4 linked regions of the Homo sapiens genome follow. The protein of the gene in region 2 interacts with the protein of the main gene of each other region in a pairwise test. Each region holds a gene or a part of one and is shown on either strand. Other genes may lie near its edges. The genes, in order: ALOX5AP, NAPB, SYT2 and STX16.

Region 1 (7,026 bases), on a different chromosome or scaffold from region 2:
AATGTGCCCCTGGCTCTAGGAGACACCTTGGGTCTCCTTGGGGACAAAGACTCCGTCATGTTCACTGTTACTCCTTCAGCAACTGACCTGGTACCTGGCACAGAGCAGGTAGCAAATATCTACTGAATCAATGTTGAGTGAATGAGGAGTGAGTGAGCAACTCAGGAGGAGGAGGAGTGGGGTAACCTGAGTTCATTGGCCTCAAGAGTTGGCAGTCATTGCCCACCCACCATTGAGCTGAGAACTTCATATTGCCAAGAGGATCAGTAGGAGCCCCAACAGAGGACAGGACTCCATGGGATAGGAAGAGGGAGCAACCCAGTGCCTGCTAGGGAAGGTAGGTAATAAAAGACCAAGAGTCAGTTGCCAGTTGGTGCCAGGTGCCATTGAGTTCAGGCCCAGGTAATAGCTTAAATGAATGGGGAAGAAACCAAGATTCAGGCTGGGCATCATGGGTGGCTTATGCCTATACTCCCAGTACTTTGGGAGGCCGGGGATGGCAGATTGCTTGAGTTCAGCAGTTCGAGACCAGCCTGGCCAACATAGCTAAACCCTATCTCTACTAAAAATACAAAAAATTAGCTGGGTGTGGTAGTGCACACCTGTAGTCTCAGCTACTCAAGAGGCTGAGGTATAAGAATCACTTGAACCTGGGAAGAGGTGGAGGTTGCAGTGAGCCAAGATCAGGCCACTGCACTCCAGTTTGGGTGACAGAGCAAGACTATGTAAGGTGAGGTGAGATGAGGTGATGTGAAGGGAGGGAAGGGAAGGGAAGGGGAAAAGAGAAGAGAAAAAAGAAAAGAAGAGAAAAGAAACGAAACCAAGATTCATCCTTCACTGCTGGGTAGTAACTGCTACAGGTGAACTAAACAGGATAGAGGAAGGGGTCAGAGAGAGTAGGATGAAGGGCTGAAAATAAGAGCCAGAAACTTCTAGAGGGCATTAAAAAGGGAGCTGCAAAATCCTCGCAGGGCAGCCTGAAGCCTGAAGGAAGAAGCTCAGACTGGGGCATTCATTATGGAATGTCTTCCCTACCCACTGGATCAAGGATGACACTGAACTTCCTAAGCGGACAGGGCTGGAGCAACTTCTGGAAAGGGGCAACGGACCATCTGGGGTTCAAGAGAGAAATTCCGGGGGAAGGATCTCATCTAGCAATTCCTCCTCGGTTGGTGAGGTCAAGAACTAAAGCAGGTCCCAAGAGCATTAGGTGTCTGCAGAGTCCAAGTGTGACATAGCCCAGGAACAGAAGAGAGGCCTGGGGAGGAGATGGGCCCAACTGAAGAAGATCTCAGCAAGTAGCTTCTAGACGGCAGGGTTGAAAATCTCCTTGCATTTAACCATAAAGCCCCTCTGGCTTGCATCTATATCAGGCCGTATTTTGGTCTAGATTAGGCTTAGACATTTCTTCTAGTATCTATTACTTCTACTTATGACAGCTGCTCAGAGTGGTTGTGTTAAGCAGTATCTGTGTTAAGAAGGATTCCGAGGCCAGGTTTGGTCTCTGGAAGAAAGAGCACCATGATTCATCAGTAATGCCTACCACGGCCAGAGGGGAGGAGAAGGGGGTCTAGAACCCGCGCAGATGGCGGGTTATGGGGCTGGCAGGATCTTCTTCTTATCACCTAAAGAGGGAGACCAGGGAGGGACACAAGAAGGCAGGCCATTTATATTTCAATGAGGTCCGAAGAAATCTACTATTTTAAAGATTTCTTGTAAATCAATCTCCTATTGTTTATTTTTGCCACCTCTGTTCATTCCCTAATAGGAATCAGTTAGTAAAGCCTTTAAAGTTAAAAGGACATGTGGGTAGGTGGACAAATTTTGTCATGTTCTGCAGATGGTCTCGGAATTAAAGCAGCTGTAGGATCTCAAGCAAGTGGTGACAGATGAAGAGAGGAGCAGTGACTGAGCCACATCCCTGGGACTTTGCAGGGGGTAAGATAGGGCTGCATAGGGAGCCAGGCAAAAGAGAAGACCCTCTTATTTCATTGCTAGACATTCCACCCCCACTCTTAACGAGGTAATCACATGGGAAAAGGCATGATAGAGGTTTTCCAGGGCAAAAGAGAATAAAGAATATCATTTAGGGCAGTGTTGATAAGAATAGGAGAGATAATGGAATTGTGGTTTTAGAGGATAAATAAGAATGCCACTAGAGAGGAATGAAGAAAGAGATGGCACAGGGAAGGATCTGCTGAAAGAACAGTCATTCTTTTTCCAGCTGCAGCCCGGCTCACGGTCTAACCCCGTCAAGTCCTTGAGCTTCACAGGCTCTCAGGTTTTCCAGATATAGCGCTTTCACCCGCTGACCTCCCTAGGATGTCACTGCCTTTATCACTACTGAAGGATGCTATCTAATCATAGAGCCCATTAGCCACTAGAGAGGGGTGCTATTGTAAAAGACAGAGCGGCTGTGAACACAAGGAAGGAAAATGGTGTGGAAGGCTGGGGTCAGCACCTGGGGCAGCAGCCTCACAGAACGTGTTCCTGGCACCTGAAACCATACTAGTGCATTAGGAATTGCAATCTCTAAGGAACTGACGGCATACTCTAACGCCGACATTTCTTCTGTAAGTATTAGCATGTATTTTACTAAAATCTAGATTTCCTAGTCCAGATGTCAGGAAGGTACTGTGCTGCTTTGGGGCTTTCTGTCTGGCAACATCTATAAACAATGCAATGGTGATGCTAGTCAGTTTCACAGTCTCGTGTCTGCATCTTTTTTTTTTTTTTTTTTTTTTTTTTTGAGATGGAGTTTTGCTTTTGTTGCCCAGGCTGGAGTGCAGTGGCGCAATCTCGGCTCACTGCAACCTCTGCCTCCTGGGTTCAAGCGATTCTCCAGCCTCAGCCTATGGAGTAGCTGGGATTACAGGCGCCCACCACCATGCCTGGCTAATGTTTTGTATATTTTTTAGTAGAGACGGGGTTTCACCATGTTGGCCAGGCTGGTCTCAAACTCCTGACCTCAGGTGATCCACCCACCTCAGCCTCCCAAAGTGCTGGGATTATAGGCGTGAGCCGCTGCACCCTGCTGTCATGTCTGCATCTTACTGCATCTTATTTTCCCAACATTCTTTCTTCTGGTCCCTGAAAGATATGTTCCTCAGGACAACTTATCACAAGGTGCAAGCTTTAGTTCTCATTTCTCTAGACAAACAATGAAACATTTCACTCTCAGGAGGCCTGGGAACCCAGACCTAAAATGTCATTCCAGCGCCAGACTCTGCAGGGCGGGAGTGCAGGGTGTGGGGCTGCAAGGCACGTGCAGCAAACAGCACTGAAGCACCCTTTGAAAGCCAGCACCATGCGGAGGAATTGCTTAATAAGAAAACTGGGCAAGTCCCCCCAGCTGTATTTTCAGAGCCTTCAAAGCTCAGGGAAAGAAGAATCAGAGGTCCTAGTCAGCCTTCCCCCTCCCACCCAAGGGGATGCTACGGAGCCGTGAATCTAGTCAAATACTGTTTTGAATTGTCACTCTTCCTGCTCAAAAATCAGGAATCGCTCCACAGTTCTTTAGTAGTCCCAGTTACCTACCTCTGCGTTCTCTCTCCTAGGTAACCGACAAAGTACTTTTGCCTCACAAACAAGTACATCAGTCCAGCAAACGCAGCAGGAACTAAGTGGAGAAATGAAAACACCTGTGTCAGTTTCGTAGCCACCAAAACATGCTGTTAGCCCAATTAGGCAATCAACATTGGTCACAAAATCTAGCAGAAGACACACGCACTTCAGGAAAAGAGCCCAAGGGCTAGAGGAAACCTGAGAACCTTCCTAATACTGGTAACGACCTTATGCCGGCATCATGGCATTGTTTACAACAAACTTGTCCAACCCGGAGCCTGCGGGTCGCACGTGGCCCAGGATGGCTTTGAATACAGCCCAACACAAATTCATAAACTTTCTTAAAAATATGAGATTTTTTTTGCAACGTTTTTTCTTTAGCTCATCAGCTATTGATAGGGTTAGTGTATTCTATGTGTGGCCCAAGACAACTCTTCTTCCAGTGTGGCTCAGGGAACCCAAAAGACTGGACACTCCTGGTTTCCAAGGTATTTGCATATCTATCATCTAACCTGAGTCCTTTCAACATAACTAGTACCCACATTTCTATTTCCAGATGTGGAAACGTGGGTTCAGGTGGTCAACCAGGCTTGCATAAGGCTGTCAGCTCGTAAAAGGGGGCAGAGGGTAGGGCTTAAACCCCAAACCCAGCTCTGAAACTGGTTCTCTTAAAAGTACACCCTTCACCCCTGAGCCTCCCCACAGCACAATGTTTAACCTTTCTTGAACTAACAGCTACCATTTAGAAGAGAAGGACATTCCCTCTGCATTCTAGCCTTTTGGGAAGGAGATTCCCTCTGCGTTCTAGCCTTTTGGGAAGGAGATTCCCTCTGCGTTCTAGCCTTTTGGGAAGGAGATTCCCTCTGCATTCTAGCTTTTTGGGAAGGAGATTCCCTCTGCATTCTAGCTTTTTGGGAAACTGCCAAGAGCAGCACCCCAATAACTCTATGAAGTCCTGAAGGCTTGGAGCTGGGAGTTAACTAAGCTGGAACTAGTGTTATCTAGAGCTACAGATATAAAAGCAATTTAAACACTTCCGCCATTGAGGGAATACTTTTCACCTGCCGCAGTGCTCCTGGCGTTTTGGGAACTTGAGTCTCCAATCCTCCCAGCTCTCTGGTAAGGAGTGTGTTACTGTCACCATTTGACAGACGAGGAAATTTAGGCTTAGGCCACAAGAGCCTAAGACAGATGAGGACATCTGTCTTTTTCCTAGATCATCTCTGAGCCTGGCATAGTGCCTGGCACATAGGGGTGTTCAAAATAATATTTGTCAAATGAATGAAAATAAGTCAGGCCAGTGAAGGCGTGGAATTTGAAGCCAGGTCTTTCTGATTTCAAAACTTTATCACCACCACCTGCATTATCAATAATAACATTTATTGCGCTTCAGATGTTAGGTGGAATCATATGAAATGCTATTTTTGTAGGTCATAAATAGCCAGATATTGGCAGTTTTACATGGCTCAATCTGATATATGCCAAGCACTGTGTCAGGAGCTTTATACATATTATTTCACTCACCATAGGAATGCTACTAGCTAGACCATGGTCCTGTTTTACAATAAGGAAACTGAGGCTTGGAAAAGCTGAGTAACTGCCTGGAGTCACACACCAGCAATGAGTGTCCTTGGATTTGCCTCCAATCAGCCACTCCCCAAAACCCATTTCTTTCCACAATTCCTCCTGCCTTCCAAAATACTATTGTTATCCGGCAGATAAGAAAATCAAAGCAAAAGAGAAACTGTGAACTCTTTTTGAGACGGAGTTTCACTCTTGTTGCCCAGGCTGGAGTGCAATGGTGCTATCTTGGTTCACCGCAACCTCCGCCTCCCAGGTTTAAGTGATTCTCCTGCCTCAGCCTCCCGAGTAGCTGGCATTACAGGCATGCACCACCACGCCCAGCTAATTTTGTATTTTTAGTAGAGACAGGGTTTCTCCATGTTGGTCAGGCTGTTGTCGAACTCCCAACCTCAAGTGACCTGCCTGCCTCGGCCTCCCAAAGTGCTGGGATTACAGGCATGAGCCACTGTGCCTGGCCCATGCTATTCTCTAAAAATCACAAAGCTGTCACAATCACGATTTGCCTTGGGCAAAGTTTTTCCTTATGTTATACCATCTGAATGATTCTGCTCCAACTTACTGGTCCATTTTTCTTTCAATGGGAACCCAATTGAACATGAGCTAACAGAGATTATGGGTGGAAAATGGCCACACTCATACCCCTGTGCAAGGAAGGTGAGTGCCTCCTGCAGGGAAGTGGGCTGCTGGCACCAGGAGGGTACAAATCCAGCCCCTAAAATTCTGATGTTCGTTCAAGCCACTTGTTCCTCTGGGACTTGAGCTTCTGCTCTATAAAGTGAGGGATTTGCACTAGAATTATCTTTGGGTTTCCTTTCTGCTAAAAAAAATTCTACAGTCTACTTTATTCCTAAGAAATGACGATTATCAACCAAGGTTACTGATGCTTTTGTCTGCTGGCAATGACAAAGCTTGTTTTGACAGGAAATACCTATTTCCAGGGCTACGAAACACCTTCAAACTCCCATTGTATTTATCTAGCTACAGCAAGTCCGCATTCATCTAGATCAAGCATCATCTAAGACATAAAAAGAACCATAACTCCTAGTAAGAGCATAGTTTGACTTGATTTTTCAAGTAATGCGAGACATGTTTCCTATTTAACTCAGGAGAGAAAATAGGAAATAAATGGTGAGCTTACTGACAGCCTTCTCAGCACAGAAGGAGTGCCACGTGGTGTCCCTTAAGTGGTTTCTGCTGCCGCCTCACCTCTGCTCTCTATCACTGAACTTGGTTCTCTTCCCATATGGCGCTTCCCACCCTTGTCATTGTCTTCATTCACTGACTTCTGTGGTCCATCTTGCCAGCTGGCCTGTGCCTCACCGCCAGGTGACCTCTAGAAGCTACTCTTTATTTATCACTGTATATCTAGGCACAGGGCTTGGCACAGAGTAGCTCTTCAATATATATTTATTATGTAAATGAATAAAGTAAGAGGATCTTTGTGAAAAATCCAGAATTTTAAGTCAAAAGACCCAGGCACTCATTCTGCCTGTGTTCTTCACCAGCTGAGTAGCTGTACCCAAGTTACTTTATCTCCCTGAGTCAAAGTATCCTGAAAGGTAATAAGGGACATAAAATCCACTCTATCTACTTTACAGAGCGGGGAGACAACAATAAGTCTTAAACAGTTCATCATGGGACTGAGTGTGGCCTTTCTGCCTGTGCCCTCCAGGGCCACAGAAGCTGGCCAGTTCATGCCGATCTGCCACCAGGCACAGTGCCAGGCGTGGCCCCGAAAGGGGACCAAAAGTATGACTGATTTCCACTCAATGTTAAATCAACTCTGGAAGTTGATTTGTCTTTCCAACTTGCTCAAGTCAAGCCTGTGGGCTGCTGATAACTGTGGGAAGGCCGGGGATGTGGCATCCAGCCCGTGGC
Region 2 (7,026 bases):
CTTCTGACATCAAGTGATCCACCCACCTCAGCCTCCCAAAGTGCTGGGATTACAGGCATGAGCCACAACGCCTAGTCGGCCTCCATTGTTTTTGATAAGAAGTCTGCTGTCATTCAACTTGTTTTCCCCTATAAAAAAGGTGTTATTCTCTAGACACTTTCATAATTTTTTTCTTTTAGTTTCAAAAGTTTAATTATAATGTGGCTTGGATAGATATATTTGGTTTTAAGCTATTTGAGTTTCCCTAAACTTACAGAATCTGTAGGTTTATGTTTCTTGTCAAATTTGAGAATCATTTAGCAGTTATTTCTTCAAGTACTTTTTCAGCTTCCTTTTTTTTTTTTTTTTTTTTTTTGAGACCGAGTCTTGCTCTGTCGCCCAGGCGTGCCAGTTTAATGGCGCAATCTTGTCTCACTGCAACCTTTGCCTCCCAGGTTCAAGCAATTCTCCTGTCTCAGCCTCCCAAGTAGCTGGGACTACAGGTGCTTGCCACCACACCTGGCTAATTTTTGTATTTTTAGTACAGACAAGGTTTCGCCATGTTGACCAGGCTGGTCTTGAACTCTTGACCTCAAGTGGTTCGCCTGCCTTGGCCTCCCACAGTGCTGGGATTACAGGCGTGAGCCACCATGCCCAGCCAGCCCTTTTCTCTTTCTCCTCCCCTTCTAGAACACAGATGCCACAAAAGTGAGACTGTTTTATTATCCCATGGGTCCTTGATGCTCTGTTCCTTTTTGTCAGTTTGTCTTCTCTCTGTTGTTCCTGTTGTTGTCTTCCATTTAGTGCTTCTTTCCTCTGTCCCTTTCATCCTGCTGTTGAGCCCACCCACTTTTTATGTATGGTACTGTTTTTTTTTTTCAGTTCTGAAATTTTTATTTGTTTTTACTTTATATCTTTTTTCCTGTGGCTTCCTTTTTCTTTGTGGATGCTTTCCATTTTTCCATTAGCTTCAGGTGTTATTGTACTTGCTTTTTGGAGCATTTTTATGAGGGCTTCTTTAAAATCTTCGTGGGATATTTTGGACATTTCCGTCATCTGGAACCATCATCTGTTAATGGTCTTTTTTCATTTAGCTTGAGATCTTCCTGTGTTTTTGGTATTACAAGTCATTTCTGATTGAAAACAGGGCATTTGCACATTAGGTTATGAGACTGGGTCTTGTTTAAACGTTCTCTTTTCAGTTGGCCTTCTTTGACATTCCTCTGGCTGGGGAAGGTGGGGATGTTACCTCATTACTGCCAGGTGGAGGTAGAAGTGTCAGCTTTCCACCAGGTCTCTGTTGACACCTGAGGGGCCTAGTCAGCCCTGGGCAGAAGTGGCATCCCCTCTCCTTATCTGTTTCTGCCAGCACAGTGCTGGTTTGTTCTTGGTATGGTGAGAGTCTTCACCCTCCACTAGACCTCTTCTGACAGCACACCAGCTGGAGAAAGAAGGGGAACCTCTTTCCTGCTTGACAGAGACAGGATGCAGGCTCCCAGTGTGGTCTGCACTGCCTTAGTGTCAGGGGGTTGGGTGGGGATCAAGCCTCAGCTCCCTATTTGGCCTTCTCTGAAGCTCCTAAGCAGAGGTATTGGGGTGCTTCTTACAGTCTTTCAAGAATGGACTTTAGGACTCCTTCTTCAGCCTTTGATGATGTAAATGGAGTTAGGGCCTCAGTTTTTCTGTGATATTTGGCTGGAGTAGAGCAGTTATTGTCTAAGTGTTTTCTCTCTTGCTGGGCTGCCCCTTTTCTAGTCCTTTGGCCAGAGAGAGCAGGCTTTTGTCTCTTCTCTTTTTATCTGTGCATACTGGCATTTCTGGGTTGCTGGTTCTTCAGTTTCATGCCATGGATATAGGAAGGGAAAAGAAAACTGAGGGAACCCACTACCACGTTTTCCCTTGGGAAACGTTTGTTTTTTAGAAAATGACCTGGGCTTTTAGTAGTGCTTAGTGGGAGGATTAGGGGAAAGGATGTTTACTCCATCTTATTGGAAGCAGAATTCTTCTGAGCTATTTTTAACTGGTTAAGACTTCATGTATTTAATGGTCTTGTCTAGTAAAATTTCTACTATATGGTATTCGGATAAAATAATATATTTCATAGCTAAACAAACATAAGATACATAATTATTTTCTAAAGGACAACAGATGAGAATGACTTTGCCTGATATAAGAGGGTAAATCTTTTAAATTTAACTCTGCGTTCTGTGCCTAGGTTGGGGCAAACACAATGGATAATCCTTTGTTGAAATACAGTGCAAAGGATTACTTCTTCAAAGCTGCCCTCTGCCACTTCATAGTAGACGAGTTGAATGCCAAGGTAAGGAGTTCTTCAGCATTGATTGACTGATTTCACCCATAAGAATACGTACACATTCTCTCTTGTTCTTGGTATCATTTCATTTTGATGTTAGTACCAAGAATAAACGGGTACATTAAAAATAAGTATTATTCTGTGGTATGTGTCCCAGTTGTAATCTTTTAACAGCTGTCAAAGCTGTTCTCAAAAGTTACCTGATAGTTTATAGCCATACCACCCTGAACACACCCAATCTCGTCTGATCTCAGAAGCTAAGCAGTGTAGAGCCTGGTACTTGAATGGGGGGCACTGCCTGGGAATATTTAGTGCTATAGGCTTAAATATATGTATATGTTCACTGGTAGCCACCATTTTTTTTTCAGTAGTTTTGCTTTAAAGAAATTAAGGGGGCCAGGCGTGGTGGCTCACATCTGTAAACCCAGCATTTTGGGAGGCCAAGTGGGGTGGAGCACCTGAGGTCAGGAGTTTGAGACCAGCCTGGTCAAAATGGTGAAACCCCGTTTCTACTAAAAATATAAAAAAATTAGCTGGGTGTGGTGGCGGGTGCCTGTAAGTCCAGCTACTTGAGAGGCTGAGGCAGGAGAATCACTTGAACCTGTGAGGCAGAGGTTGCAGTGAGCTGAGATCGCACCACTGCACTCCAGCCTGGGTGACAGAGTAAGAGTCCGTCTCAAAAAAAAAAAAGAAAGAAATTAAGGAACTAAGGGAGGAGACAATAAGAGTAGGATAATATCCATTTAAAAAACAACCAAAACAACAGGCAAGCTCAGAAATGGTGTTGGAGTGAGGACTGGGAAGAAGTTGAAAAGCACAGTGAGCACTGGGAGCCAAGAGGCAAAAAGACAGGCAGCCTTGGCATGGCCAGTGTCTGGAGTTGGAAGAGCAGAACTAAAGCCAGTAAGAGAAACTGTTCTTTCTGTCAGCTTCGAGCAGGAAGCTAAATGTAATTTATTTGGAATCTGGACTGTATTAAGAACGTCTCCATTTAATGGATGGATACAGATACCTGGTCTGTGAGTGTTTAAGAATTCATTTTCATTTACAATGTCTTCTCAGCAGCAGCCTAACTCAGAAAAAAGTAGTTTAGAAATTATTCTTTATTGAAATGGAAAATTCAGAATAGAAAGATTTTCTATGTTGATTCTGCTTTTGAGTTTAACTACATACTTTTTCAACACTTAATAGGATATAGGTAGATCTTATTTGAAGCTGATAGAATGTTGAAAGCTTTGTTTGTTTAGTAAGTCTGAAATTGATGAGTGGTTTTTCTCTCTCAGCTTGCTCTTGAGAAATATGAGGAAATGTTTCCAGCATTTACTGATTCAAGAGAATGTAAATTATTGAAAGTAAGTAATATTAGAACTTTGAAGAAAAATGCTTTTGTTCTGTTAGGTGACAACACCTAAGTGGGATTGGGTATGAAGTGAAGTTTTAATCTATAAAGTCTGCTAACTGAGGGGCCCTGGTACTTTCCTGCTTTCGTATTATAGGTGTTCAAATGCAATTAAGGTCAGAAACATGTAGTTGTGTTCTGAAATAGGCACCTGAGAAATGTTACTACAGAAGCTAGATCCCTAACTTGGCTCTTGACTTGTATATGAGTATTTCCTCAGTTTTGTGCAATATTTGGCAACATTGGTATTATACTTAAAGTATATATTTAGAAATGGGACTTCATCTTACAGAACTGTTTTTTAAAATATTTTTATGCTACCAGAAACTCCTAGAAGCTCATGAAGAACAGAACAGTGAAGCTTACACTGAAGCAGTAAGTTATGCTTTTGGGACATGGTACATTATTTGAAGATTTAAGTTAAAGAAACTTCTTTTCCTTTTCATTATGTGAATTCTAAACATTTATTTGAACATGACTCCAGCATACCTTAAGTTGTATTTTCCAAACGTCACCTTTTATATATCACACAAATTAAACAGTTCCATTAGCCATGCTGAGATTCGACTTACACTCAAAACTAATTTAGCTGTGAGACTAGTTCAGGAGCAAATATTCCATTTATATTCTTATAATTTGCTGTTTTAATTTTTTCTTTTGAAAATAATCTGACCCATAAATAAGTATAAAGTAAAATTAGTTAAGGCCAGGCACGGCGTCTCACACCTGTAATCCTGGCACTTTCGGAGGCCGAGGCAGGCAGATCATGAGTCAGGAAATTGAGACCATCCTCGCCAACATGGTGAAACCCCGTCTCTACTAAAAATATAAAAATTAGCCAGGCATGCTGGCACACGCCTGTAGTCCCAGCTACTCGGGAGGCTGAGGCAGGAGAATCGCTTGAACCCGGGAGGCAGAGGTTGCAGTGAGCTGAGATTGCACCACTGCACTCCAGCCTGGTGACAGAGCGAGACTCTGTCTCAAAAAAAAAAAGAAAAAAAAAATTAAATATAATTTAAAATATAAAAACTAAGTAGTGAGAATTTGCTGTATTTGTGGCATGAAATAAATGGAAGGTGGCCAGGCACGGTGGCTCACACCTATAATCCTAGCACTTTGGGAGGCCAAGGCGGGTGGATCACCTGAGATCAGGAGTTTGAGACCAGCTTGGCCAACATGGCAAAACACCATCTTTACTAAAAATACAAAAATTAGCCAGGCATGGTGGAGTGTGCCTGTAATACCAGCTACTCGGGAGGCTGAGGCAGGAGAATCTCTTGAACCCAGGAGGTGGAGGTTGCAGTGAGCCAAGATCACGCCATTGCATTCCAGCCTGGGCAACAAGAGTGAAACTCCATCTCAAAAATAAATAAATAAATAATAAATATATATATATATTAAAAATATGAGGGTTTTTTTCTTTATACTTTTTGTTTTTCCATCTTTTGCCATCTCATGTTTAGAATCAAGCAAAAAAAAATGTTTTTATATATTTTGAAACAGATCCTCACTCTGTCACTCAGGCTGGAGTGCTGTGGTGTGATCACGGCTCACTGCACCCTCAACCTCCTGGGTTCAGGTGATCCTCCCACCTGAGACTCCTAAGTACCTGGGACTACAGGTGCACACCACCACCCCCAGCTAATTTTTTTTTTTTTTTTTGCATTTTTTGTTGAGACAAGGTTTCACCATGTTGCCCAGGCTGGTCTCTTAACTCCTGGGCTTAAGCTATCCACCTGCCTTGGCCTCCCAGACTTCAAGGATTACAGGCATGAGCCACTACATCCAGCCTCAAGCAAATTTCTCAGTAGCCTCCTGTAACATGTTCATCACAGCTCAGGAGTGATAGAGGAAAGGAATGTTTTCCTGTCTGACTTTTGCCTACCACATCATTTTCATCCTATTGTAATTTTATTTTTGGGTAATGCATTGAAATGTGTTAATTCCGCTTCCATACATATTCTAACTCTGTAATTAATGTTTTCCCATGTTCAGTGAGTATTAATTTTCCATATTCCTTTCAAATTTTTATACAATATCCAGTTACTTTTGCCACAATAATTATGACTGTTAATGAATTTTTTTCTTACACGTTTGAAAACAGAGAAATGTCAAGCCCAGGAACTTGTCACTAGTATCAAAATAGTAACAGGATAATGAAAAAATAAACAATTTTTTAATGAAGAAAGTTATAAACTGGAATGATTAATTTCAAATGATGAAGAAAGTTAGTAGATTATGGCTGTAAAGGTATAAACAGCTTGGGGTACTATTATTTTGTGTTTTTAATGTATTTACATGGGGTAATTCCTGTTCCTCTTTCCTTATACTAGGTGAAGGAATTTGACTCAATATCTCGCTTGGATCAGTGGCTGACCACCATGTTGCTTCGCATCAAAAAGTCCATCCAAGGGGATGGAGAAGGAGATGGAGACCTAAAATGAAATGTTTTTGTCTTTGTGGCATGCAGCTAACTCCTCTTTAGTTTTGTCTTAGGGTCAAGTGATCTTTATGGGATGCCTATTTAATGGCTTAATTTTGTTGCATATGAGCCAGACGGCCTGTGTATTGTTTAAGCTCGCCAAGTCTGTGTTGCTGTGAAATGAATGAAGGAGAGGCTCCTGTTCATCTTGTGGTAATGATGGGTTGTTTCATGCTTATCAGAACCCCCAGCGTTTTCTGAGAAGTACTTCAGAATCTCATTCCTCATATTTCATTGGTATTTGTGGAGCCTATGTTTAATGTTGCCACGTGTTTTTATGTCCTTTTTGTTGGACTTGAGTACTCAGCCCAGTTGTTCTCATAGATGCTTTGCATTTTCTCTGTGCTTTGGCATCTGAATATGTTCTTTAAATGTGTGTTTAGTTTAGGACAGTTACTAGGAATGAGTTTATAACTTCATTAGAAATCATTTCTATTTTTGTTATCCTGTGATTATTTTGATGGTGCTAGTGACTAGTTTCTTTGCTTTTTGTGTTGTTCCGTATGCTAACATGTGCATGGCAAAAATTTAGAATAGCCAGGGTCTGTAGGCATCACATTGTGAGGAAGGGAGCTTTCTGGAAGTACTTGCTTCATGTATGGATGAGTGTCAAAGTGAATTTGATTTGTACTTAGACACACGCGTTTACACACACACACATATCACAAGATCTGTTAGAAATGGAATTTTTCTCTTTTTCTGGAGATAGTTTTCACTTTTAGTTGGAGTGGAAATCCCTTTATATTTACATTGAAGTATTTTAATTGGCATAGCCTGCTCATTATTTTCATGTTTATACACTTTCCCACGTTGAGGTGGTGTGTTCTGTGCTGTGACTATAGAAATCTTGGT
Region 3 (7,026 bases), on a different chromosome or scaffold from region 2:
GCCAGAGTATCCCCACCACTGAAGGTCCAGGGTGGTGGGGATACTCTTTAAGAACTGGAACAGCAAGTCAGAGGGAGTAATGGGGGGGCAGGGTCACTCAGTGCAGTGGTTAAATATGAAGCACCAAAGAATGGAGGCTAGGAGATAGACAGGCCTGGGTTCAAATCCCAGGGCTGCTAAGTACAAAGTCTGACATTTGCAACAAGTATTTTATTAGTGAGTACCTACCATGTGCCACTATTGTAGTCTCTCTGGGTGGGGAGGTGAGCACAGCCGCAGGCCCTACACATGTTACTGAGCCACTCAGCATCCCTTCTGCATTCGTTCCACTATTGCATTTTGAGAATCTGTGCTAGGCAATGGAGATTCAGGTGGGAACAAAACAGACCTGTTTCCTGCCCTCGTGGCATTTACAATCTAGTGAATACCACACAATTAGATAATTACATAAAGAATTCATCATGACTGTGCCAAGAGTTATGAAGGTATGTAGGAAGCTTCGAGAGCATGTAACAGGATGATCTGACAATGTCTGCACAGTTTTCTCTAAAGAACAGAGGTAATAATGCTTAACTCTCAGGGTAGTATTGTAGAACTGATAACTATTCGTGTTATTTTAGAAGTAGCCCCTGGACCACCAGACAGATGCAGTTCTAAATTCCCTACGTGAATAATCCATCCATAGGCAACAAGTTGATTCTTCATCTTCCACTCAGTCAGAGAAGCCAGGCCAGAGAAGCTGGGATTCAGTTATGGCTTCTCCTGGACTCCAGAAGCCTGTGATAAATAATATAGTTTCATTGGAGAAACATCAAGTCAGAGATTTTTTTCTAAGTGGCAGTATAGTGACTACAGCCAGATTGCCAGGGTTCATCCTGGTTCTGCCACTTGCTGTGATTTTGGGCGAGTCAATCACACTCTGTTTTTTAGTCTTGCCATCTGTAGAATGGAGCTAAAATTTGTAACTATGACGTAGATTGTTCTTGGTGAGGATGAAATGGGTTAATTCCTGTAAAGCGTGTAGAACAGTGCCTGGCGCGGGAGGAGTAAGTGCTTTTCATCCTTGGGTGGCCTGCGTGCTCCTTTTCCTGCCCACACACACAACACTGTCTTGGGTTCTCCAGCTGCAGGGAGCACTGTCCACCTTTGATATTCTTAAAACTCAAGGGAAGGAGTTGCCCTCACCGTCTTGGTGGTCAGTCCTGCATTTCATCCCCCTCACTCGAAGACGGTTTTTATGCCTAATGAGTCTTTTCTTGCCAAAGCTTGATTTCTGGGAAGGATTTGTCCCAGCAATCCTTCATTTTCATCTCTGGAACTGACAGTTCAAGGAAGTAGCCAGAGTGATGGGTAAATTTGGATCCAGGCCCAGAGGGACCTGAGAGTCACTGTGAGCCTGGAGGGCAGGGGAACACCTAGCTGCCAGCCCCCTCCCCTAGAGAGGCTGGGTCTAAAATTAAACATCCAGAAGGACTCCCCAGGCCAGGTGCAGTGGCTCACACCTGTAATCCCAGCGCTTTGGGAGGCTGAGGTAGAAGGATCGCTTGAGCCCAGGAATTCCAGAGCAGGCTGGGCAACATATGGAGACCCTGTCTCTACAAAAAATTTAAAAATTAGCTGGGCATGGTGGCACACCAGGTTAAGCAGGAGGATCGCCTGAGCCCAGGAGGTCGAGACTGCAGTGAGCTATGGTCATGCCACTTCACTTCAGCCTGGAAAACAGTGAGATCCGGTCTCAAAAAAAAAAAAAGGACTCCCAAAATCCAAGATGAGCAGTAGATATTGTAGAAGCTTCCTCCCTGGATCATTTTCTGATGAGGATAAAGTCCCTGCTGGCTGAGTGCCAGGGAGGAGGTTAGATTCTGAAAGCCCCTCACACTTAGGGAAGTAGGATGTGAGTAGCAGGGTCCATTAAAATGGCCAAGCAGCCTCCAAATCTGAAAGAAAGGGGGGTTACCTGCTGCTGTAAAGTCAGGAGAGGCCCTTCCTTGGTCACTTTAGCCGGGGACCTCAGGATTTCAGCTTTTGCTGTCAGTAACACTAAGCATCAGGCATAAGAAAGGGCAAAGTCAGTGTGGGTCCCGCACAACAGGGAACCTCAGGGCTCCTCCCTGCGCCTCCTGCTCCCCTGCTCGGGGATAGAGCGGCTCACAAGGGCGGTCAAGCTCTCATCACTGCAGTCCTCGGCTACGCCATCGCTGTCCCCACTTTACAATGAACGGGCAAAGGCCCAGAGAAGTTGTGTGGTTCAAAATCCCCAGAGAAGTTGTGTGGTTGTTCAAAATCCCCAGATCATAGGCACTTTGCAGGGGGCCTTCCAGGCCACAGCAGCTGAGTGGTCAGAACCCTTCCTCCTCTCCTCGCCGCTTCTCACCAGCTCTACCTATGGCAAATGGAGCCCGAGAATACAGGTGCGGGTCCTTGGGATGAGGCCACTAACGCGTTGAGTAGAAGCAGGAGGCTGGGTGATTTAAATCAGGCAGCAGCCTTTACAAAAATTAGGCAGTGATTCCTTGGAGGAATTGAATCAGCTCTCCCTCCCTGATGTTGGGTTTCCTTGGGCTCTCCATAAGGGCTCTGGCACCTCCTTCAGGAACACCTGCTCTGAAGCAAGGAGGGAGGCCCCAGGGTGGGCAGTCTTGAGTGCATGATGGGACACCCCGCTGAATCCAGAGCTGCTCCAGCCTCAGCAGCCCTATCTGTGATGGCATGCTGATGTCATCAGCACCAAAAGCCCTTGCAGGTTTCAACTCGGCAATTAAACGGCTCCTCTGAAGCCCAGCAGCCGTGTGTGTGTGCATATGTGTGTATTCAGGGTCCTAGGGGTGGGCTGGGGAGGAGGGCCCCTTGCAAAGGCAGGGAGAATGGGAGTTAGTGGGTGTGTGACTGCTTCTCTCCTTCGGAGACTCCAGACCTGAGAAGTCAGATCCCTATGGGACTCACAGCCCAAAAGTCAACCCTTGCGTGCAGGTGTAGCCAGAGTCTAAACTCAGCCTGAGCCAGAGCACCCCATTCCTTCCTTACTTCCTACTTTCCTCCCGCCTTTTCCTCCACGTTCCACTCCAATGCACTAAGCACCTACTCTGTAAAAGGCACCTGGGATGTAAAGGAGAACTCAAAATAACCGTGTCTCCTCTATCAGCCTGGGCGCTCCCCAAGGCCAGGGCATGTTGTTTCTCCTCCTCTCCTGGGTCCCCCTAGCCCCCAAAGTGGAGTTCTGAAGCTGGGAGCATTGATGGTGGCTGGTGCAGAGTGACAGGGCTCCCAGATGCTCTCCAACCCCAGGATAGTCGCCTGTCAACACAAGGCTTTCCTCAATCACAAAGCTTGCTTCACTTCCTCCCATCCCCTGCAGAGAAACTAGAAGCCCAAGGGCCTCATCACTGGACAGTCTGGGACCAGGGGAGGACAGCAGCTGGGTGGGGAGTCAGGAAAGCTCCCCCGAGGCATTTGTCAGGTGCCTCTCAGTAAGGCAGGGAGTCCTCAGACCATGGAGAACTCTGGCAGGACTTGCCATAATTGGGTTGATACAGTGGCTCTGGAATTTAGTAATTAGGAAATATTGCAATTAGAGACGGAATTTACCCATTACTATTCCATGCATCTTAATACAGGGTGTAAGTGGTTGTAACTGTGAGCTTGGCACTAGGCATATGGGAAAATAGAAGTGAATGGAGAAATGGGATGAAGGAAGGAGGGGATGGGAGGAGCTTAACCCTTTCCATACCCGAGTAGACTGAAGGAGCAGCCTGGGGGTGATGCAGGGTTAGGGCGAGCCCAGCAGCCCACCGCATTTGTAAGAGGTGACCGAGGCAAAAATCACAGGCTCCCTCCGGACCTTCTGCTTCTTTAGCTCAGGTAGGATCAGATGCAGGGCTTGGCAGGGGTTAGGAGAGTGGTGATGGAGGCCAAGAGGGAGAGGCTGCAGGGGAGAAGGGCTCTTCTCCCAGTTTCCTGCTCAGCTGTGGAGAAACAGAAAAGAGTTGTAACCACCTGCAGTAGTGTGCATGTGAGAGACAGGAGAGGGTACCTTGTACCTTCATCTCTCCCTCCCCACTTGTTCCTTCCCCCGCCCTTCTTTTTACTCCCTTCCTCACTCCTACTCTTAGCTCCATTTTCCTCTGAAGTCAAATGAGGCATTTGTGGTATTGCAGGGCTGAGCTGGGTAGGGCCATGTGTATGGGCGGCGGAGGGAGGGGAGCGGTGGCCGGGGGTGGGAGGGTGGTAGCGTCAAAGAGGTGGTGCTCATTTTTTCCTTTCCAGACCAGAAATGCCTTCCCCAAGGTCAGCCAGTGCTCTGAGCTCCAAAGACCTTCCCAGAGAACCTCTGCTCCCTAAGGGCTGGGTGGTTTGAGAGAAATCTCTTTTCCTCACCATTGATTCCAGTCTGAACTAATGATCCAGATGTGTTGTGCATGTCCTTCCTCTTCTACAAAGTGACTCGGGAAGCAGTTTTTATGCTATTTGTAGAAAGGAAGCATTTTCTGGAGCGGGGCCTTCTCTGCTTCTGCTACACCTTAACTCCCTAGATTAGAGGAGAGCTGTGAGGCCGCAAGGAGGGGGGCCTGGAGAGGGGCTTGGGCTGAGGGTGGTAGAGGTCTCTGAGGACTGTCCTTGTCTTCTGCCTCCTGTGTTTATTTGGAGAAAAGCCCATTTAACAAATGTACAGGTCTTTACCTCTATCCCTCTTGGGGCTGTCTGCCATGTATCTTTCATTGTACCAACTCAGATGGACCAAGTGACGGCCCGGTCATAGGGCCTAAGATGGGATGTTAGGAGACGGGGTGGAGGCCTGCAAGCAGGAGGAGAGGGGACCACCCAGGCAACCCTCTAGAAGTGCAGGAAGGATGAACAAGAACCTATTGGTTAAGTGCTCTTGGGTCTTGGAGGGAAGCAGACCTAGGACTGAAATCCATCCTCACCACTAGGAGCTAAGAAGAGTTACAGGTAAACCCCAGGAAACTCAAGGGTGGCTGTGGCTAGGATCAGTGTTAGCGGGAAGCATGGAGTTAATTGGCTGTGGGAGGGCTCCCTCTCCCAGTTTGACTCTCCCACGAGTAGGAAAAGGCATCACTTTAATAAGGCTGCCCTGTTTCCAAATCAATCCTGGCATTGCAGGAGGCGAAGGGGGAAGCACAGCTGAGAAATTGGATTAGCTCTTTGATGCTGGGAACTGTGCTGGTTGCTGCTGCTGCAGCTGCAGGAGGCAGGGAAGCATCAAGAACTGAGCCTGCCATTGGCAAGCCAGCCCCAGACGTCTGAGGCTTCCCAGGGAGGCGTGCTCCACCCCCATTAGGTCTCCTACTGGTAGAGGGTGGCAGGGGTGCCCTGGGGCAGACAGTAATAGAAGCCCAGGTCCTCACCACTGCAAACCTGGAGGTGTCTTCGTGCCTCCCCTGGAGTAGATCGTGAGCCCCAAAGACCTCAGGAGGTGAGGCAATGGGGAAGGGGCAGAGGAGAGGCCCCCACAGCATGTTCTGTAGGGCATAACTGAAGCAGCGTGTGTGTGGCTGGGAGTCAGATGGCCTAGGTCAAACCAAGACTGCCACTTCCTGCCTGTGTGACCCTGGGCAAGTTACTTAAACTTTCTGAACTTCGGGGTCCTCATCTGAAAATGGAGACAGTAACACACAGGGAACAGGCCCTTGTGAAGTTTACCTTATAGCAGTAATCAAGATGGGGGCCACGGGTCCCTGGGAGTCCCTAAGAATTTTCAGGGGGGTCCATAAGGTCAAAGCAGTTTCCATGATGGCAATAAAGTTATTTGCCATTCCCATGCTTGACATTGATGGTGCTAAAGCAGTGGTGGGTGAAGCTGCTGGCACCTTACCATGAATCAAGGTAATAGTATCACACTGCACCCGTCTTTGTGTTCTTCCACACTACACACCCGCTAAGCAAAGTAATTGGTAAATAATGAAATGCCATTTTCAGTTAAGAATGTCTTCTTTTCATGAAGCAGCAAAGATTATAATTATATTGAAGCTTGATTCTGGAGTGCACATCTTTTTAATATTCTCTGTGATGGAATGAGAAGTACACATAAAGCACTTCTGCTTCTTACAGAAATATTACACAATAATTTCTCAAGCAACTGAACAGTGCCCATCACCTGTGCATCTGTTTGAGTTGCAGGCTGAACTAGCCATTTTTCCATGGGATACCATTTTATCTGAAAGAACAACCAACAAACTCCAGTTATTCAGACTTGGGTGTTGAGCAGGCATTTTTGCAAAAATGAACGAAGTGAGCTCGTCACTTCCAGAAAAACAACTGGCAGTATTTGTGGCCAATGATAAAATTTAAGCTTTCAAGCAAAAATTAGAATTTTGGAAAACTCACACATATTACTATGAAAAGGACTTTTGTGATAAGATCAGTGGGAATAGTAATAGATGTGATTTGTTAATATTGTTTAATGAAATTCATCAATATTTGAAAGATCTTCACAATTCGGCAAGCCAATATCTTCGAAATGATAAATGAATGATGTCACAAAATCATGCACAGAGGCAAACAAGCATTCCAAGTGCAAGGTTTCAGATTCCCCACTGCAGCCAGTCTTTAAGAAGCTACCACTTGGGGAGCAGTGATGTCATATCAAAGAAAAATATCCACAATGATCTGAAAAGGCTTTATTAAATACCCCTCCCCTTTCCAGTTACATATCTGAGTGAGGTTGGATTTTCTTTCATCTTTCAATCAAAGTAATGTATTGCAGACAGACCGAACACCGAAGTTGATATAAAACTCTAGCTACCTTCTAGTAAACCACACATTAAAGAGATTTGCAATGATGTGAAACAAGGCCTCCTTCTTACTAGATATTTTACTAGAGAAAACGTCTACTATATATTTTTTTGGTCTTGGAAAATATAGTTACTTATTAAATATGTTGTATTAACAGGTAATGAGTTACTATTGTATTTTGAGCTAATTTAGAAATTTCTCAGTTTTAATTTTGAATATGGTAACTATGGATGGATCTAACTTACATAAGAAAACGCTCTTGGAGGGTCCTCAATA
Region 4 (7,026 bases), about 35 Mb from region 2:
ATTACTTCGGGGTCTGCTGTCTGAACCGATTTCCAGTCTTTCCTACTTCCTTTTTCAGGCAGCAAGTTCCAGAAACTGGCTACTCACTGCATGAACTTGGCAGGCCCTTTTGCTTTTCTTATGTTTCACCTCTAAGGGCTTAAAAGGGAGTCTTCACGCTCTGTGATCAGAGGCCCTGCGTAGAGAGCACTATCTCCTCCACGCTCACCCCAGTGCTATTAGAAATGCAGGTTGCTGCCTCATCGTGGGTGCCCACGGCCACCTCATTTCCTTGTGCGTTTCACTTGCCTCTTTTGCTCTTTTGTGCAGTGCCGTTATCTTTTTCATGAAGTGTGGCTTCCACAATTGTCTGTGACGTACATTTTATTTACCTCGTGCATTCATTCCACTCGTTTCTTGTCGGATCACTCAGCTGGTTGTGATTGTGCGTTCAGGACTCTGAAGTGCCAGGTACTGGCCTAGGAGCAGGGGGTGTGGTTGGGGACAGTGTCCAGAGGCTTCTTTGAAGCTGACGCAGGGCCTCACATTGGCATCTCTGGAAATAGTGAACACCCAGCTCCAGAGTGGATTAGATGTTAGCCACCCCTTTATAGGGGAGGCCTGAGCAAATGTCCCTGAGTGAATATCACTTGCATCTCCCAGAGTAAAGGCATCTGACGGCCTCACTTCAGAGGCTTCCTGCAGTCTGTCCATGTTTGATTGTCATTCTCCTCCTCTAGCCTGAGTACCCTGGAGATGTCACTTTTCCTTCTCAGAAAACACTAAGTAAGGTGTTCCCTGAGGAGGACCCGAGCCCACCATTGGTTCTCTTACCCAGGGAAGTGTCTGGCCCTCTCCTTTGTTCTCTGTCTTTAATCTACTTCCTGTCTTATGACAAAGAAATCTCTGGGAGTTTTTAAACTCAAGAATTATTTTAAAAGTCACAAGATAACAAATGTCAAGCCCCCAAACCACACTGCCTGGAGGACTGCACATCTGGGAGTGCCTGGGCCGGGCCCCAGTGTCCATGTTGGTGAAATAGGGAGCGGCGCTCCTCTGAAGGATTGTTCTTGGGACTGGCATGGGCCAGGTCAGTAGCAGTGCTCAGTACAGTGCTCACAGAAGGCAGGGAGGGACGGATTGCTCCCCTCCTTTTTCTTCCCCTCAGAGTATGTATGTTAGTTGAGAAAAAAGGAAAATCAGTGAAACTTAACAACAGTATCAGGGTGATGTGATTCTCAAGTGTTTTTATCTCTATATTTTTTGTATCATTTATTTTTATTTTTTTGAGACAGAGTCTCACTCTGTTGCCCAGGCTAGAGTGCAGTGGCGCGATCTCGGCTCACTGCAACCTCTGCCTCCCCAGTTCAAGCGATTCTCCTGCCTCAGCCTCCTGAGTAGCTGGGACTACAGGTGCGTGCCACCATGCGTGGCTATTTTATTTATTTATTTATTTTTGTATTTTTTAGTAGAGACGGAGTTTTGACATGTTGCTCAGGCTGGTCTCGAACTCCTGAGCTCAAGTGATCCGCCTGCCTTGGCCTCCCAAGTGCTAGGATTACAGGCGTGAGCCACTGCGTCATCCTATGCCATTTTAAAAGTATTTATTTTGACCATTTACTAATTTCATAATTAGAAAAGGTAAGCATTATTTTAAAATTATTACGGGTTTAGAAAAATGTAGTGCTGACATCACTTTTTTCTTTTATCCACATGCTTATTCACTTCTCCAACAACTCGGATTTCTTAAGCCTAATTGTCTATTAGCGAAGTAGTCTGACTTCATCATACAGGCTCCCAGAGTTTCACGTGGAAGTGTGAGTTGCCAGTCTGTTGATTTTCAGTGTCCCTTCTGGGCTTTCCAAGTGTTCATTGCCATAGACAGTCCAGAATTATCGGTATTGTTCTCATTACCAATGCGTTACGGCTAAACTTAGTTGATTTTTTTAGATGGGGAGGAGGTGTAGCTGACTTTTCCAATCTCCACAGAGGCTTTGCTATTTCTGTAATCTTAGTCTACACTAAATCAGCCTTCAGGGAAAGGCAGGGTTTTTAAGAGTAGGAGGGCCATAGATTTGGAACAGCAAGATTTATAAGAGAGAATGTGTATGTTCTTTCCATAGATGGAGAACTTGTCCATACTGGCTGGTACTCTTTAAATGGACAAATGTCAACATTTGAAGTGGATCAAAGGCAAAAGATACCTTTAGTGAGACTGGCAGGAAAGCCATTGGGTGTGCTGTTTTGAACATCTGTTGGATTTTTTCTGCATTTCTCTCAGGAAGGATGGCTCTAGGTTAGGGTAGCGGACCCCAGTAGTTCTTGGAGAGAGGAACTACATATCAAAGAGGCAAGAATTCTTAATTCTCTTAAGTACAATTTTTATTTAAAAAATATGGATTTTTTTTTTTTTACTTCAGAAGCACAAATTTATTTATTTATTTATGTATTGAGATGGAGTCTCGCTCTGTCTTAATAAAAGGCTGGAGCACATTGGCACGATCTTGGCTCACTGCAACTTCTGCCTTCCGGGTTCAAGTGATTCTCCTGCCTCAGCTTCCCGAGTAGCTGGGATTACAGGTGCATGCCACCATGCCCGGCTAATTTTTGTATTTTCAGTAGAGACGGGGTTTCACCGTGCTGGCTAGGCTGGTCTTGAACTCCCGACCTCAGGCAATCCGCCTGCCTCAGCCTCCCAAAGTGCTGGGATTACCGGCGTGAGCCACCATGGCCAGCTGCACAAACCAACATCATATATTTGGAGGGGGCACCATGTTGAAATTCAGTAAGGGTAAGGAGAGAGAATTAGAAACCTGGCCATTTTTTAAGATCTGTATGAAATAGGATGGCAGCTTGAAAATTGATACATATGCTGGATCTTCAACAATAAGAAGACATGTTTTTAAATGGAAAGTGAGGTTTCTGAAATTAAAAGGGTGCTTATGTTGCACATAAAATTTGTTTATGTCCATATTTGTTCCCATTTCAAATAGTTGACGCTTATCTTCAACAATTGTTTTCCCTTCCCAAAACATACTGTCTTGTTTTTTAATAGTACATACTGTGATACACATTACAAATCCATACTGCTAAAAGAAATGACACATTTCTTCTCAATAGGGTGGTGTTTCTTTATTATAATGAACTATAGCTATAGACTGTATCATAAAAGAGACAAATTATTCGCTATTTAAAGTTTTCATTCCCAAAGAATCAGCTGTTCTATCTTACTGGCAAAACTCTGATACAATGTGTGGGAAAGCTAGTACCAGCTGAGCAGGCTGGCATCCATGCTGTTCATGTAGGAATCTCTAATTAGCAAGCTTCCTTAGGACCCTTAACAAAGAGTGTGTTCTCCCCACTTTTGATTTACATCTAATTTGAGGGGAACACATGCATAAAATCAAGTACTGCTTCAAAGAGTTGTATTCACTTCAACCGACTTTTCATATGTGGTTTATAATTTGTTGTTTTGGATAAAATGATACTAATCCCAATGCAGGTAAATTTAGATAGATACCATCTCTCTGTCTTCTTTAGTTTAATGTGTATTTGTAAACAGTAAAAACAGTACAAAATAAGATCATGAGCTTAAAAACTCTAAAATCACTATAAATAATTACTGATTGAAATGTGTAATAATAAAATATAGTGGATTCGATAATAAACTGGTGTAGTGGAAATTCTAGGACCCATGAAGAGGTCCTTTAGCAATTTTAGATTTTACTTTGTATAAACAGCTGGAGTTCAAGTTCTGTTCCAGTCCAGCAATACTGTAGACAGCACCTGATGTATGGCTGGCAGGTGCTGCGAGCTGGGCCTGTGGTTTGTCCCCCTGCTTTTTAGTCAGTGTGTCCTCCACAGAGTTGTGTACCTCTTGGTGACTTTGGAGCAGGAGTGTTGAGGAATAAACAAGTCTGCCTCTGAGTGCTTGGCACAGGCCCTCTCTGTGCCTGCTCTGTAGAGGGTGAGGTCTGCGCCTCTCTGTCCACGGATGGTCAGTAAGAGAGGATGATCTTTACTGACACTAACGTCACTCACTGGCGGCCTGTCCTATAGTGCCTGGTGTAGTTGGTGGGAAATGAATCAAACTACTGTGTTTTGTTGTTTTAATCTGATGGCTTGTCTTGATTCATTTTCTTAGCAAATTGCAGTTATAGTTTATGGGCCTGTGGAGTGATTGGCACCTTTGAGGGTGGAAGGGGTTTCTGGAGTCAGCCGACCCAGGTTTCAGTCTGTCACATAATGGCTCTGTGACCTTGGGCAAGCGACTTAACTTTTCTGAGTTTCAATTTCCATATTTATAGGTTAGAATAATAGTTTCTAACTCACCTAGTTTTTATGAGGATTAAAATAATGTCAAGAATGTAAAATTCCTATTGATGAACTCTTGAAACCAAACAGAAGGTAGTGGTGGTGGAGAATTACCACTTCACGGCCCGGGAGCCCCAGACAGTGCGGGTTTGGATGACACACCATTTGTTTAAGAAATGACACTGGCCCTGCAGCATCCGTGCCACGCTTGAGCACCGTTGGGCTTAATCACGGCTCCTGGACGTGCTGGGATTAGTGAATGGGGCCTAGTCCTTCCAGCGTGGTCATTGCCTAAGATGCGTTCCCTGAGTGGACACGTGCCCCAGAGCACACAGAAAGCCTGAAGCAGATGGTGGCAGAACCACTCCAGGGCATGCAGGGAGGTTGATGGTGAAGATACCAATTTGCTTTTAAGAATTTTACTGTGAACTCTTTAGGATTTAGGGCCTATTACTTGAAGTGGTCTTTTATTCTAAGTTTTTCTTTATATGATATTTTTCCCCCTTCATCTGTGGATTTTAAAATTTTGTCTTGTTCCTTTATTATTAGAAAAGCAAATAAGTATTTAATGAATGAAAAAATAAATTTAGTTAAATGCAAGGAAGAGGGAAGAAAAGCAATATGAATTTTTCACCCAACTCTACAGTGTGATTTAGAAAATTTCCAAAGTATTATCTATAAAGGGCTTTTATAGATTATTTTCCATTATATTTTGATCATCATTTGGATCTTTTGAAACTGGCATTTAAAAATTCTGAGCTCTGGAGGGCACCTCAAAATCTTTTCAACCCATTCACTGCCTGCAGGCAAGAAAACAGCTTAACCGTGCCAAACCCATGATTTCCCTCTGTTTTTTGTGTGTGTGTGTGTTTTTTTTTTTTTTTTTTTTTTGAGACAGAGTTTCGCTCTTGTTGCCCTGGCTGGAGTGCAATGGTACGATCATGGCTCACTGCGACCTTCGCCTCTTGGGTTCAAGGGATTCTCCTGCCTCAGCCTCCCGAGTAGCTGGGATTACAGGCATAAGCCACCATGCCCAGTTAATTTTTGTATTTTTAGTAGAGAACGGTTTTCACCATTTTGGCCAGGCTACTCTCGAACTCCTGACCTCAGATGATCTGCCCGCCTTGGCCTCCCAAAGTTCTGGGATTACAGGCGTGAGCCACCGCGCCCAGCCGATTTCCCTCCCATTCTTAAAAGCTTTCTACCGCAGTGTGTTATATAGTTAAAATAAACAGGAACCATCGATACCATTTCAAAATAAGGGGAAATGTTCCCTGTGGACATTTAACTGAAGAAAAGAAATGACAGTGTAAGATTGCATTGAGATCTTAAGGATTGCTTTTGCCAAATGGTAGATAATTTGCTAGCGGTTTTAGGCAGTTGTTTCACACATCTTAACACATGGTTAATGATTGTGTGACTGAGATAACTGGATCAGCCCTATTTCCAAAATAAGCTAAGTGTATTTAAGTAAACCTTGCTACTATTGAGCATTTTGTAGTTGTTTCATTTACTGCCTAGTTTTTTTTTTCACTTGCAACTGATCACAAGAATCATTGAGGTTCATGCCGTTCTATCACAGTACTAGTAGTAAGAGGTCTTTATTTTAAGGATCTTTTGTTGACTTTTTCATTACATTTCTATAGCCAGATCAAGTCAAATTTACGTTCTGAAGTATGTCCAAGGAAATTAAGAGCTGGTGCATGAAAAGATAGGAAAACAATCCAAATCCTAGCAGTTATCAAAAGCAAGTTTATAATACAGGCAAGTGCATTCACTCCTTTCTATATATTTTCAGGGAGCAACATTTAAGAGAGAGTAAACATTCACTCCTTTCTGTATCTTTTCAGGGAGTAACATTTAAGAGAGAGTAAGAGTATTTGTATCTAAATTGGATTAGAATAATTTTTTTCATGTCCCTTTACTTTCCTGTAGCTTGCTGATGACCGTATGGCACTGGTGTCAGGCATCAGCTTAGATCCAGAAGCAGCGATTGGTGTGACAAAACGGCCACCTCCTAAGTGGGTGGATGGAGTGGATGAAGTAAGTTCCATGTTAGTTTCATAGCATCTTGTTTTTTTAAGTAATTATGACAATGTATTTTAAGATATCTGTCATATAAACGAATTTGGCTACACTTGAATGTATATTTCTAGAAATACTTTAGCTTTAGGTTAAGTTGTCTATGTGTGTGTTAATGATTTTAGCTGTAGTTTTAACATTGGTAGTAACTACCTGAATTATAGGAAGAAATTGAAACCCCATGCAACAAGGAAGAATGTGATTTTCTGGTAATTTGAATTAAAAGCTGCTCACACATCAGCAAGCCAACAAGTTTGCTGAAGACCGAATTCTGTATGCTGAGTGTAGCTGATGGAGGCAGACCATAGCCTGCCTGGCATCAGTGGAGTTCTGTGACTTCATTTGCTTAGATTCAGTATGATGTTGGCCGGATTAAGCAGAAGATGAAAGAATTGGCCAGCCTTCATGACAAGCATTTAAACAGACCCACCCTGGATGACAGCAGCGAAGAGGAACATGCCATTGAGATAACTACCCAAGAGATCACTCAGGTGAGGAGTGCAAGTGAGTCCTGGGGAAACCAGCGAGCCTTCTCATGGCAATCTCAGAAACTAGAGTGTTACTCAGAATCAGTCTCCTGGAGTCATTTCCCAACCTGAAGTTCTCAGAGGGACCTCAAGAGGCCCTGAAGTCCTCCAGCTGTCAGCGTAG

What was found.
Region 1: the proteins of NAPB (region 2) and ALOX5AP interact in binary tests that used the Homo sapiens proteins (3 or more experiments, as listed by UniProt).
Region 3: the proteins of NAPB (region 2) and SYT2 interact in binary tests that used the Homo sapiens proteins (3 or more experiments, as listed by UniProt).
Region 4: the proteins of NAPB (region 2) and STX16 interact in binary tests that used the Homo sapiens proteins (3 or more experiments, as listed by UniProt).

What each region holds. Positions count from the first base shown.
Region 1 is NC_000013.11:30,752,537-30,759,562, reverse strand, and holds part of ALOX5AP (arachidonate 5-lipoxygenase-activating protein), read right to left. Parts: intron 4,053-7,026; exon of another isoform or gene 3,964-4,052; intron 3,620-3,963; coding exon 3,538-3,619; intron 1-3,537. UniProt on the Homo sapiens protein: Required for leukotriene biosynthesis by ALOX5 (5-lipoxygenase). Anchors ALOX5 to the membrane. Binds arachidonic acid, and could play an essential role in the transfer of arachidonic acid to ALOX5.
Region 2 is NC_000020.11:23,376,486-23,383,511, reverse strand, and holds part of NAPB (beta-soluble NSF attachment protein), read left to right. Parts: intron 1-2,194; coding exon 2,195-2,299; intron 2,300-3,576; coding exon 3,577-3,645; intron 3,646-4,016; coding exon 4,017-4,067; intron 4,068-6,025; coding exon 6,026-6,136; 3' UTR 6,137-7,026. UniProt on the Homo sapiens protein: Required for vesicular transport between the endoplasmic reticulum and the Golgi apparatus.
Region 3 is NC_000001.11:202,700,447-202,707,472, reverse strand, and holds part of SYT2 (synaptotagmin-2), read left to right. Parts: intron 1-7,026. UniProt on the Homo sapiens protein: Exhibits calcium-dependent phospholipid and inositol polyphosphate binding properties. May have a regulatory role in the membrane interactions during trafficking of synaptic vesicles at the active zone of the synapse.
Region 4 is NC_000020.11:58,661,262-58,668,287, forward strand, and holds part of STX16 (syntaxin-16), read left to right. Parts: intron 1-6,228; coding exon 6,229-6,336; intron 6,337-6,725; coding exon 6,726-6,866; intron 6,867-7,026. UniProt on the Homo sapiens protein: SNARE involved in vesicular transport from the late endosomes to the trans-Golgi network.